Linked DNA regions of Homo sapiens: region 1 is linked to region 2. The links come from fine-mapping of genetic effects on gene expression. Tissue or cell type: whole blood. Region 2 holds a variant in brackets; the other region holds the start of a gene. All regions are shown on one strand. Distances are between the middles of the regions.

Region 1 (6,193 bases), 88 kb after region 2:
AACAAAGTTAAAAATTCAGTTCCTCAGTCACCCTAGCCATGTTTCAAGTGCTCAGCAGTCACATGTGGCTAGTAGCTGCAAAACAGATAACAGAAAATGTGCATCATTGTAGAAAGTTCTGTTGGACAGCATTGCAGAGGACTCTCATTCCAGACAGGGCACAGCGAGTATAAAGGTTGCTTGATTTGAGTTAAACAGTGACGTGGCTCTTCTGTGTACACATCCTACTATTCCCTGTTGTTTGCCTATTTTTATCCTGAAGCTAAATGGCATTTGTCATTTATCACCTTAACCTAAACCAATTTTCCAAAGGCCCTTCTTGAACTTTAGACGCTTGGTCTATCCCATAGAATCTAAGGAATGCTGGCCTTGCATTGAGCAACTGTGTGAATGGGTTTGAAGACCAGGAACCTGGACCAGGAGACGGAACACGTGTTCTACTTTGGAGTAGAGTAAGTTCATGGTATGATTCAATGTTGTCATTGGGGTGATGGGGCGCAAGCACCCACTAATCTGAGTGTCCTGGAGGGCTTCTAGTGGGCCAGGTGTTCACCCTTTAGTTGTATGTCATGGGGAAGTTGGAGGTATGGGGGTGAGTGGCACTCTGGGGCTCAAGACAACGACCAATTACCAACTGGAGCTGCAATATCTTAACACTGTAAAAACGGATAGAGTCTGACATGGTAACATACAAATGCAATTTCAGCCTTGGATAAATGCATGTGATAGGTATTTGGAAACTGTAATGGACTATGGAGTCCTATTATAAAGTCCTTTCCAGTTAACACACACAGCTTAAGGTGACAGGGTTTAAGGCCTTCTGCAGTGTGTTACTAGCATCCATTCTGGTATCTTCTCTTACTTCTTCATTATGTCATCTTTCCCTTCACTAGCATGACATATTTTCAGTGCCCAGTGAGTTCTGTGTGATACCACCTTTGTGTTTTTCTCATGTCTTTCTCTCTTTTTTTTTTTCTTTTTTGAGACGGAGTCTCACTCTGTCGCGCAGTGGCGCAATCTTGGCTCACTGCAAGCTCCGCCTGCCGGGTTCACGCCATTCTCCTGCCTCAGCCTCCCGAGTAGCTGGAACTACAGGCGCCCACCACCACGACCGGCTAATTTTTGTATTTTTAGTAGAGACGGGGTTTCACCTTGTTAGCCAGGATGGTCTCGATTTCCTGACCTCGTGATCCGCCCGCCTCAGCCTCCCAACGTGCTGGGATTACAGGCGTGAGCCACCGCGCCCGGCCTCATGTCTTTCTTCCTTACTTGAAGGACACCTACCCTCCTTCTGCCTGGTTGAATCTTCCCCACTCACCCTTAAGGTGCAGTTTAAACTTCCTTCCTTTCGTGGATTTAGCTTTGCCCATCCCAGGCCAGAAGCATTTCTCTCTCCTGTGGCCTGAAGTGGTCTTACCTACACTTACTTGGCAATTAGCAAGAGTACAAGTGCAATATCTTTGTTTTTCTGGATGTTTGTCTACTCCTAGGTTAAGTCTTACCTTCCTTAAGGGCAGAGGTCACAGTTCGTTCCTCCTTTTTTGTTACATGGCATGTTTTTATACATATTTGCCAAGCACCTACCATGTGAGTGGCTGAGGGCACAATGGTAAACCAACTCTGGACCCTGACCTCCTACGATTCTTGTCATTTTTTAAAAATGTGAATAAGCTTATTCAACTTTTGTAAGTCTTAGACAAAGATGGGGATCCCAGCGCCCCACTGATGAGAAGTCAACACCCTGGCTGGCCCTTGTTGAAGACAGATTGAGCTGAGATGTGAACATTCACACTCCCTGGCGTTTAAGGCACTGCTGGAATAGTTTCACTCTCAATGATCCAGAATTCCTGCCTCCTGGAAGGGTGTAAACAATGATTCACACCACGGCAGGCCTTTACAGTTCACCAAGCACATTCATCACAGCAGCGGGCTTTCAGGGAAGGTCAGGTTCTGACATGCTAACAGAGATTCACCTTCAGGTCACCAGACTTGCAGCTACTCTGCTCAACACCTATCATAACCAACAAAAGTTTTCTCCCTTCGTCCTTTAAGGATGCGTGTGCCAAGAAGGGTCGGCGCAAAGCAATTTTGCCTCATGGTGTTTGCCTTGTAGCGTGTCTATTTTGAAGTTCCTTGGCCAAAACAGTTCCCAGGAGTAAAGATTACGATGAGGGGCCAGGCTGTGCAAAACGCGCGGGAGGGCGGACGACTCTCCAGCACACTTGGTTGAAGTCCAAGTCAACCCCTGGCTATTCGAAGAAGTGAAGCAGGACTTTTCAGCCTAAGGGGTAGGGGGACAGGGACAGGACAGAAGAGCGGGTTTGCCGGAGATTCTGGGAATTCTGCACCTGTGGATGAGCCGGTGCCCAAGGTGCCCTCTTCCTCCCGGGTCCCGAGTGGGAGATCCGAGGGGGACAGGTCCCAGGCAGCTTTCGCAGGCGAAAGGGCGGGGCGGGGCGGGGCCCGCGCACCTGGGCGGGGAGGGGAGGAGAGAGGAGGGGAGGGGAGGCGCGCGGGGCTGAGCCTCGCGGGGGCCGCGGCGCGCGCCAATGGGCAGCGGCTGGCAGCGCGCCCCGCGCCCGAGCCGCAGTCGCGCCCTCTCGCTTCCTGGCGAAGGCGCGGACGGCGCGCGGAGGCGAGCGCGGTGGAGAGGAGCCCCCGGCGCCGCAGCGCCGTCAGGGCATGAGGATGGCCGTGGGCTCCGTCAAGATGCAGCCGCCGTGCGAGAGCCCGGCCCTGGCCGCCGCGGCGGCGGTGGTGGCGGCAGACGGCCCCCTGCGCCGCAGCCCCAGCGCCCGGGAGCCCGAGCGCGAGCAGCCGCCGGCGTCGCTGCGGCCGCGGCTGAGGGACCTGCCCGCGCTGCTGCGGAGCGGGCTCACGCTGCGGAGGAAGCGGAGCGCCGCTGGGGGCCGGGTGAGTGGCCCGGCCCTGTCCGAGTGGGCACGGGCGGCGCGCACGTGGAGCCCGCGCCCACCCCCCGGGCCGCTGAGGGGGGCGTCTGGAAGTTGGGGAGGTGGCGGAAGGGACGCCCTTCTGCCGGACTCGGCTGAAGAGGGGCCCGGGACGGCGGGTTTTGAGGTGCCACCCCCTGAGCGACGGCTTCCCCCGCCCCCACACCTCCCCCCCACCAGGCTGCACCTGACTTAACCCCAGGGCCCCCAGATTCAGGCTGCGGGACCGGGCATCGGCTGAAGACGAGCTGTTTGCCTCTTCTCGGAGGGGAAGCTGCAGGTGTCCAGCGTCCAACAGCCAGCCAGCCCTGTCCCAACCGCAAGCTTCAGGCCCCACGAGCGGCATCCCTGTTTGCAGGACGCATGCGACGTGTGTGCTTGTTTTGGAGGTGCTGTTGCAAGCTCTGGGCATCGAGACTGGTTTTGGTGGTCTCCACCGCCGAGGGGCAGACCCAGGAGTCGGAAGCTCTTGGGTGAGCTTCCAGTTCCTGGGTTCCGGTGTCTCCAGCACTTAATACTCCTGGACACCCTCTTGAGCAGGAGGGTGCACGCCCCCAAGAACCTTCAATATTGACTTCCTGATGGTGTGTTCAGATACGATTTCCTGGTGAAGGAGTGTCCCTCATTGAGTTCTAAGTGCATCTAATGACCTGAGCAGGTCAGGCATGTTTTGTATTTTTAAGAGAAGCAGGAAGGTCTGCTGATTGTCTCCTGGGATCTTTAAGAAGCCACCTAGGAGGCCCCGCCAGGGCCTCAGGACACAGAGCTGACTTACTCAGATTTCCCTGCTCACCAGGGTTTGGCGGCACCTTTGGTGGGTTCTACTCATCTTTTAAAAATTTATTATTAAGTGGTCTTTAATGAGAAGCTGCATCAATGTGGTTTTTCTTTCCCGTTTGGCTGTAATTTTTAAAATGCAGTCTTGTCTGACTTAAAACAAGACCTTGCTGGGAGACTTCTAGCTCTTTCAGAGATGGGTTTGTGTAAACTTGAGAGTGAGGGATAACCACTTGTTTTCATGCGCCCTCCTTTGGGTAGGGAAGGGTCTGAACTGATGTCGGTCTTCAGCTTCTCGAGGCTGCATCTCTCTTTTCCTAGGCATTTTCCATCTCAGGTGGAAAATGGTCCATCCCAGGTCCATCTCAGAAGATGTTCTGAGGATTCTCTGTGTGTGATGGGACATTCTTAAAGTCGGTGACCCAGAGAGTTTAGGAATTGCCCACAAGTGACCTTAACATGTGTGGCATTTAGGATTGCCTGCAAAGTAAGTGAGGAAATGTGTCCCCAAGATGTGGTGTCGGAATAAACAAGAACTGGAGTTATAGACTTTGCAGGAATCCAGGGAAAAGTAGGTCAAATTATGTTTCTATTATCCTTGACGGTTACTTTTTCATGGCACAGAATACTGAAGACATGAGGGCTGCCAGGCAGTCTGCGACAAGAATTGCTGAGGGTTTCTGTATAAATAGATCTATAGTATTTATTTGCGTTCATACTCATGTTTCTTGCTGCCTGGGAGGGTGTCGTATACCTTGTCAATATACCTATTTAGTTTTATTTTTTAATTACTCTGAATGTGGTTACCTCAGATAATGTATGCTTTATTAACCCTCTTTGATTCTAATACTGTATTATTTCTTTTTGGGACTTTCCAAACACATTTCGTAACTGCATAGCCAGTTTTTATTGAAGGAAGTTTGATTGTCAGTTTTTCCAGTGTTGGAAACCCATACTTTTTGACTATTTATTTGACTGTTTATTTCCCCTTTCTTCTGCCTTGGAACTACCTTTGTGATTTTGGAATCTTCCCCATCAAAGGAGTAGGAAGGGGGTTGAAAGAAGGAGAAAAACAAGTGAAATATGAACTTGTCTTAGGCAGCTCAGGCTGTCATAACAAAATACCGTAGACTGGGTGGTTTAAACAACAGGAATTTATTTTCTCACAGCTCAGGATGCTGGGAAGCCTGAGATCAATGTGTAGGCTGATTAGGTTTCTGGTGAGGGCTCTCTTCCTGGCCTGCAGATGACCACTTTCTCGTATATCCTCTCATGGCCTTCCCTTGGTAAACGCAGAGGAAGAGAGGGCTCCCTCTTCTCATAAGGCCACTAATCCCATCATGAGGGCCCCACCATCATGACCTAGTCTAACCCTAAATAATTATCAAAGGCCTCATCTCCAAATAATGTCATGTTTGGGGTTAGGGCTTCAACATAAGAATTTTGTAGGGGGCATACACTTAACAGTCCAAAACACAGGGGGTTTGAAAGAAAGAGAGATACAAGTAGAATATGTATCAGACTGGTTGGTTGGTGACTTGTTAGCATCTGGGATTGTCTGGTTAACCACCTTGGATTGGGCAGTGATGCTAATGCAAACAAATCATGGCTTGGATCTTTTTGTAGACCTTCAGCTTTGTGTCTCATGGGCCATACCTCCAGACTGGAGCTGCGTGACTTCAGGGATAAGTTAACAGAAATCCATTACCACTAGTAAAGACACAGCTTTGTGCATTACATGAGTTAGTTGAGTTTTCATCTCCTATATTGACCAAGATCTGATTTAGGAATATGTGTGGTCCTTATCCATGCTGCCCTGGGCTCCCACAAACCTGGACAATCTGACATCAACTGACATTAACAAAGTTCTTTGTGGGTTGTGTTGCTCAACCCAGGTGCATTATAGGCTTTTTTTGTTGTTGTTGTTTTGTTTTGTTTTTTTTCTGAGACAGGGTTTTGCTCTGCCACCTAGGCTGGAGTGCAGTGGTGTGATCATAGCTCACTATAGCCTCGACCTTCTGGCTCAAGCGGTCCTCCCACCTCAGCCTCCTGAGGAACTGGGATACAGGCACACACCACCATGCTTGGCTAATTTTTTTTTTCCTATTTCTTTTAGAGACTGGGGGTCTCACTACGTTGTAGGCTATCTGTTACTAGGAAAAAATCAAACTGCCATTTGGTTAATATGCCTGAGTTCCTTGGTTCCTCAGTTCAGTCACTTCTAGTTGTGTTGAATTCAGCATGCATACTGGTTAAGACTCTTTGCACTTCTTTAAGACAAATGAGGGAAAGACTAAGTTGTACATTGTGGGAGGGCCCTAACTACCTCTTAAAAATCAGTAGCAAAGTAATGCACAACCTGAGTTCCTGACAAAACCCTTTAATTTTTTTAATTGTATAACAGAGATTATGAGAGAATGGTATAATGAACACCTGTGCTTCAACAGTTATTAGCATTTTGCCAG
Region 2 (7,667 bases):
ATACAATGCTTGGCATGTCTAACTTGCTCTTGCTTGCTTGTTCGTGTGTCCCATGGCCCCTCAAGGACCTTCTGTGCTTTTGGCTCCCAGGGAAGCAGCCTTCCAGCTGGGATATGCTAGATTGGGTGTATCTCAGAGAATTAATTTCCATATCCCAGACTTCCACATGTACTCTTTCCTAATAAGATTGGCCTCAGAACATGCCTGCAGGGAGATATCATGAGAAACATTCTTTTTTCCCATCTTGCTTTCTGTGTTCAAAAAAAAAGTATACCTCTCCTGATTTTATGCTGCATTGTCTAAAGTTGTCATATTTATGTTGTTCTGAATAATTTCTTCATAATTTTAATGATAAGCCAATCCAGAAGAAAAATTTTAACATCTAAAGTCTTAAGATTATAGCAAATTAAAAAAATTAATTTGACTAATATTATTACTACACAGAATTATAATAGAATGATAACATATTTTTAAGCGTGAGGTCCCTTAAAAATGAGGTAATATTGGGGAAATGAAATGGAAATATGAGTTCAAGGAAAAAAGTTCTATTAAAAGATCATTCATGTATTTTAAAATTTTAGATGATAAATATATCATTTCTATCTATATTCCTTTGGATAATGGAAAAATATAATTGGTATCTATATTCCTTTGGCCATATAGAAATGCATTCATTAACATTTTGTTGTAAAGTGTCAATATTGACTACGTGCCATAATTACATCTTTGCAACTATTTTAACACGGGAAGGGAAACTTGAAGTCTCATCTGAAAAAGGTTCAAGAGGATATGTAGGTTTCTAAAATTGTTTTAGGAGATATGAGAGTAAACAATGTTGCCTCGCTATGATAAACCATAGATGAATAATGACTAGATGAATGAATAAGCAAACCAGCAACTGAAAGCAAGAAATCCCTTCTAGGGTAAATACAACTGAAAGCAAGAAATCCCTTCTAGGGTAAATGAAACCAATATGGGTTGCATGACGTTTATCCAATGCCTTCATGTCTTTGCATCTCAATTGCTCATCTGTAAAAAGGAGATGGTGATAACTGTTTGTGAGCCTTAGATGAGGTCATGCATGTAAATGTGCTTTGCACCTGGCAGGTCCTCAGTAAGTGTTTGCCGAAGTACTAGGTGGCAATGCAATTTGGGTATATCCATCTCTTCCTGTCCTAAGGGATGCTGGTCAGTGTACCAGAAGTAAAACAAATTGGCTTCTATGGCTGCACACCAGGACAGGTCTTGATTACATGAAGGACCTTACTAAACACCCTTCCATCCTAACAAAAATATGTGGAGCATTTGACCATTGCACAGGGATGAGTTCCCACTTTACTCCCACAAATGTGATTTGTGTCAGCTTTGCCCTACAAATGATGTGTTTGTGGACATTCCATCTTTGGAATCTATTAAAACAGTCATTGTCAAGTATTTATTTAGAGTCAATAGAACTACTATGTATTATATAAAATATAAAACACAGGCAGCATGCTTCATGCCAAAGTGGTTACTGAATCTACTCTTTTATAAATATACAATATTGACTGATCTTCCAACCAACTGAATTACAAGCTGACCAGTACACACACAAGAAGTCATTTCTTTATAACAGTTGATGACAGGCCTCTGTCACCAAACTGTATTGGAAGTTGGCCTGGCATTTAATAAGCAATGGTGACCAATTAAGGAAGTGAAATGCTTGTGCAAAGTGCCTAATATAATAAGGTTTTTGCCCATTACTGAGACATCAGTGATGTCCCAGAAGAGAAAGTGACTCTGGTTACAAAGTGGAACCAGGCCATGCTAAATTAGAGCTGCTTCTATACTAAGGCTACCAGTCATCTTTAACATCAAGAGTGCTCACTGAGCTCTTCAGACATTTACCCTAAAACAAGAGATGAATTTTAAAATGAGTCTTTTGATGCTCTCTGGAGAGCAAACCCTTAAGCTATATTCCTATAAAAATTAAGAATCTCATTCCAGACCCCAATTAAACTAAAAAATATTGTAGAGAGAGACAGAAAAATCAAGTTTCTACAATGTGCCAGCCACTGGCTAAGTGTTTTCCCAGATACTGTCTCATTACTCTTCACAGCACCATTGTGGGGTGGGCAGCATTCCTTCCATTTCACAGATGAAAATACTGAGGTTCAGGGAGGGTTCAACTTGGGACCAGGCTTGAGTCGTTTACCTGAAACAAAACCCACATTCTTTCCCCTTCACCTTATTAACTCTAATCTTGGCTGAAAAAAGTGAGTGCTCAGAAAAATAAGGGTTATAGAAGTGAGATTAGCATTCATATTCCAATGGAAGTGTCCATCAGAGTGGTTCTAAATCTTGGCTACGCATTGGAATTGCCAGTATTCCAGGGTTTGCACAACTTGCTTGTAAGAAATCTTAGGGCAGTGTTTATCAACCTATAGCAGGCTTCAGAACCACCTGGAGGTTTGTTAAAACAGATTTTTGGGCCCTGTCCCCAAAGTTCCCGATTCTGTCTTTCTGGGGTTGGCCTAAGAATCTGTATTTCTAACAAATTTCCTGTGGCTCCAGGTTGGGGACCTCACTTTGTGAACCACTGGCATAGGGCATTGTCTTGCAAAGCGCAGTCCTGTCCCAGAGTATCCAGGTTGGAATTAGGGACTCAAATGCAGGTTCTTGGCCCTGGCCCAAATCTATAGGATCAGATCTCAGAGGGTAGGGACCGGGGATCTGCCTCATAAACAAGTGTTCCAGATGATTCTTTCACTTGCAGAAGCATGAGAACTGTCATCCAATGGGTCTTTGAACTCCTTCATCTCATATACAGCCCAGCTTTTAAATACTGTCACATTTTGAACGACAACTGCACAGCAGAACTGCATTTACAGTTGACCATTAGCTGCTGCTGTGACTTGCTTCTGGTTATTTAAAATGCCCACAAGGGATCTCTTAGCCCATGCTTCATAAATAAAGCCCAAAGAAGAAATATTTATTCATTCATTTTTTTAAAAACTCTCCAGTTGTCAAGTTTCCGACTCATCAGGGGGAAAGACTGATTAGTGGTTGTTTCATGCTTCCCCACACAAGTGAAATCAGGAGGAGAAAAGCATTCTATAAAAGAGCTTATTTCCCTTCCTCTTCGCCTCTCCTGCCTCCTCATTTACCCTTAGCTATTCAGTTTCATCAGCCCTTGTGAGAATATAGCTCTGACTTTGAGTTTAAAGGGGTTGGGCTGCTTGGAGAGCAGTGCCCTCCCTGCTGCTCTTGCATCTGGGAAGCTGGATCACCACGGGGACTTCCCCCAAGCCGGAAAAGGTCGACCAAATCCCCATTCAGAGGTGGAGGGCGGGAAGCCAGGCCCAGGCTCGGATGTACCCTGAAGAGGTGCAGGTGCTTCCCGCTGGCCTC[C/T]GCCCCTCAGCTGTGGGCTCCCAAGTGAAGCTGGCTGCCAAGAGGAGTATTTATAGCTGCCTTTGCTGGCCAGTTCCTGCCCGGTTCTCACAAGGCTGCCGGCAGATCCCAGCACGACTGGCTGACAAGACGAGGGGAGGATGGGAGGCCCAAAGGGGCATGGCCCAGCTGTCCTCCCTGAAGAGTTGCAGATGTCAGTCCCCTTGATCTGAAGTTAGAAATACAATGCGGTTTACAGGAGGAAGACATGAAGGTCATGTGAAGAGATTTCTCGCTGTTCTTCCACGGCTCCAAATCTGCTGTTGGCCCAAGAGAACCCACCACAAAGAGGTCTGTGCTGTCATCTGCAGAGCTGATTTGTAATTACTCTGCTCATAATGCAGAAAAGTCTAGAAGCTCCCTCAGCCCCTGTTCCCAATGCCAACCCTGCCCAAAGGCCCTTTAAACTGAAACCGGCATCATTGTCCAAATTCTTCAGGTGAACCTGTCTTTAGAAACAATGGCCCTTTCTCTTTCTCATCCTCTCACTTAGGCCTCTGGGTTAGAGAAGACGACTGATCTAACAGCTCTCCTTGTGCCACGCGGACAGACCCAGAGCTCGCTCTGGTGACAGCAAATGCACACCTTGTGGGGGTGTCCAATTGTTGGCTTAGTGGGTCTCCAAACTCACGAAATAGAATACTGGGGAGCCCATGAAATACCTGATTGGTTTTTCACATGGGTAGGCTCCATACAGAGCACAGCTCATCAGCTAAAACCTCCAAGGTGAAATCATTAAATCTCCAGGGGAAAACCAACAAAACAGCAAGTGTTCCGGAAAGGGTTTCACTTCCTAACTGGCAGCGAGCCTGAGATCAAAACCTGTTACTCAGTGACAGATGAAATTCCTGCAAGAGGCACAATCCATGCTATTGTTCTGTCTGAGGCCCTTATTTCTCCCAGGGTTGCTGCGAGTGGCCAAGGCAGAGGCTCCCGGGCAGCCGATGGGACATTTTCTCCATGGGTTTGAGTAGTGTGTCTGCAAAGAGTCCATGGTCCCTGGAATCCCCATGATGGGTATAATTTCAGAAAATTCATTTCTGAAAGCAGAAAGGAATTTATATTTTCTTTTTACTTTTTTTTTTTAAAACAGGGAAACAGGCAAAATAGAAGGACGCATAGTTAGAGGTGATTGAAGTCAGGGTAACGGCTAGAGCCAGGCAAACAAGAATAGTCCTCACCAATCCTGCTCACGCCCTCTCAAGCTGCCTTGCACAGTGCTGTGTGCTTTCCATATGTTATCTCATTTAGTCCTCACAATAGCCCAATGAGGGAGGTACAGGTACCCTCACTCCTTTGCAGCAGAGGAAACTGAGGCCTAGAGACGTTAAAGGTCTTGCTCTTTGTCCTAGGATGAGGATGGCAGATTTGGAATTCAAACCCACTCCCTCTGCAGGGATCCTTTAACTAAAGCCCTGAGCGTGACTCTGTGGAGAGACAGGCCCACTGGCTCTGGGCTTCTCCAAGAACTCATCAGGCTGTGGTGGTCTCTGGCTTCCTTATATCACACAGATGTGGAGAAACCAGGGCAGTGGGACTCAGCACCCCCTGAGGGTCAGTTTATGGGGACAGCCTCTTGGGCTGGACATCACCTTCAGCTGGACCTCAGCTCCTTCTCTGGCCCAGAGCTTGTTCAATTGGGTGATTTTTGTGGCACTTTATGTAGGTCAAAGTCCTGGTGGCTCCAGCCGAGTGGAAGTGTTTTTGCCTGGCTCTTAGGTGATGGGGCAGGAGGGAGCTGAATGCAGAAAAAGGAGCTGGCATGTGCCAGCTACCATGACAGCCAGCAATGCTGTGCTGTTGTCCTGCCATCCACGTGCAGTTTCCTTTCTCCGATGACTCCTGGTGGGAGGAACTGACTATGTACAGTGTGCAAAGGGCATAGCAGTGGCGGAAGTTATGTTTCTTGTAATTGGAGATCTTTGTGGTCTGGAATGATCATTTTGTGTGTTTTCTCATCAGATAGGATAGATTGCTTTAACGTTCAGCCACACCCAGAGACAGCTTTTCCTTCCTGGACTACCCATGGTCTTTCATTTTACAAGTTGCTTAGATGAGATTTTCACTTACGTCTTCCTTGTTTACTGTTATAGCTCTAAGGTCCAGCACAGTTCCTGGCATACAATGGGTGCTTAATTAATACCTATTGAAGTGATTGATTAAATGAATTCCTGAATAAGTGAATCAGTTACCAATTAATCTTGGGTCCTTGATTCCAGAACATACCAAAGAACATGATACTAGGATTTTCTCTGGGTCTTTAAAAAGGAATGTCACTTTTCTTGTTGTTGGGAAGCATGTCAGTTTGGGTCCTGCAAGAAGCAGATGGTAGAACAGAGTTGTTCCAGGAGATTTATTGTGGTAAACACCTGCGAAAGATGAGGAGGAAGCAGGATTAGGAAAGGAAGATCACTATGCAGATCTGACACTGGCAAACATGGGAAAGACAGGCAGGAGCGAGTGGGAGGGAAGGAAGGAGCCTCAGACTGAAGCACACTGGCTGTCCCCAGGGCGTGCTGGAGCTGCTGGAGCCATCAGCTTTTTTGATTGCCAGGGAAGGGGGTAGGGGTGAGCCTGGTGTGACAATGGTTGTTGCTATTTCTTCTCCAAGTGATGTCTTCTCATCCTGTGTTCCTTCCATCCAGGGGGCAAATGTGTCTCCATCACTCCTATTTCTTTCTGGGAGCACTGCCAAGTCCTCCTCATTGTCATGGCGGCAACCCAGGACACCCTGCCTCTCTCAGCCTTGCCTCATTTTCTCTTTTTAACCCCTTTCTCAATGTCTCAAACTCAGCAAGCCCAAAGTCACTGCAATGTGTTCTTTCCCCTGAAAATGTTCTAAGATTCCAACTCTGTCAAAGGCATCGTCAGGTCCTTTGTCAGATCAGCACCCAGCATTCCTTTACACCCTCCCCCGCAGTTCCTCTGCTGACAGCTCAGCCACTCCACCATCCCCACCTCCAACCCCAGGTATTTGGGAAAGAGCTCTTCAAGACTTGACTCCTGTCCTTGAGGCCCAACTTGCAGGCCAGGCCTGCCGTCAGGGCCTAATAGGACAGGTACACAACATCCTGGTTTTAGCCAAAGAGAGTATCCGGTTTTTAGTGGCTGAGTAAACAGCCCAGATGAGGAGGCCACTGTTATTAGCTGGGAGAAACACGTTTGTCGTCTTGACTTCTTGCATCTGGCAGTTGGTGTGCTGTGTAAAGAATCATGTTTACTTAATGTCAGTCACTTTCCCTTGAAAACTGCTGGTTCCAACTCAGAACCTTTCAGTCCTGGGCTATGAATATGAAGCTGTGTGGTAGGCACTTCCGCTCACTGCAGTCTTTTTACCCATCATTGTTGCAATGAGCACCATTGCCCTCTTCATCACTCATTCATTCATTTGGGTTTTATTCATTCCACAAGTACTTACAGAGAACATTTACCCAGAAAGGGCCATATGGGAAGTGGGTAGGAGCATAGGAGCATGGACTATCCAGCCAAATCCCAGGGTGGCCAAATCCCACCCAAATCCCATGGTCTAGAATTTGGGACCTGCTGACTAAAGAAAGAAAAGTCAAGCTTTTAAAGAATTAAAGCTAGTTTTATTCAAAAGTCTTACTGAGGCCTGTAGGCCAGGAGCACATCTGTCAGACTGCTCCAAAGCAGTATTTCAGTTCACAGTTTATATACAGGTGGTGAAGCCGCAGTATGTGCAAATTCACATCACAGTTGGGGTGTAAGAGTACGTCTGGTTATAGATTACTAAAAAACATTTGGTTATACATTGTAGAAGCATAACCACTAACCCCATCAGACATTATTTTATGTGTAGGAAAAGGCAAGGACTAGGGCCATTTATTTTAAGGAATACAGTGACTCAGGCAAGAGATGTGGGGGGCCATGTGTTCTATCCTGTTTTGTCTTCAAAGCATCTTTTGGAGAGCGGTACAGAGTCAGGGGCTTGTGAAATTATGCTGGCAAACAGAAATGAGCAAACTTCGCTTCTTACATTTGCGACTTTGTCTCACAGACTGTAATTGAATTACTTTACCTCTTCCCCATCTCAATTTTCTCATCTGTAAATGGGGGTAATTAGAATGTTCAACACAGAGGTTAATGAGGATTAAAATAGTTCAACAGTGCCTGGCGCATGGTAAGGGCAACTGAAGGGATACAGAGTCAGGAAATTGAATCCATGCTCTCAAGGAAGTCCAATAGGGTGGGAAAGAATGATGCATAAACAATCTGAC

What was found. PIP is the estimated chance that this variant, and not a neighbour inherited with it, causes the effect.
Region 1: it holds the start of RAPGEF5, and the variant in region 2 is fine-mapped to the expression of RAPGEF5 in whole blood (TOPMed, PIP 0.94).

Annotation. Positions count from the first base shown.
Region 1 is chr7:22,353,550-22,359,742 of GRCh38, reverse strand. RAPGEF5 (Rap guanine nucleotide exchange factor 5) reads left to right here and starts at 2,589. Exons shown (of 26, transcript NM_012294.5): 1 at 2,589-2,913. The coding sequence starts at 2,683. RefSeq lists silencers at 2,444-2,833, 2,894-3,123 and an enhancer at 3,244-3,313.
Region 2 is chr7:22,441,273-22,448,939 of GRCh38, reverse strand. The region is part of intron 4 of STEAP1B (STEAP family member 1B); the gene reads left to right. Among named protein-coding and RNA genes, the nearest start is that of STEAP1B, 55 kb to the left of the region's middle. RefSeq lists enhancers at 795-864, 875-924. The variant C/T (reference allele first, on the strand shown) is at 3,391.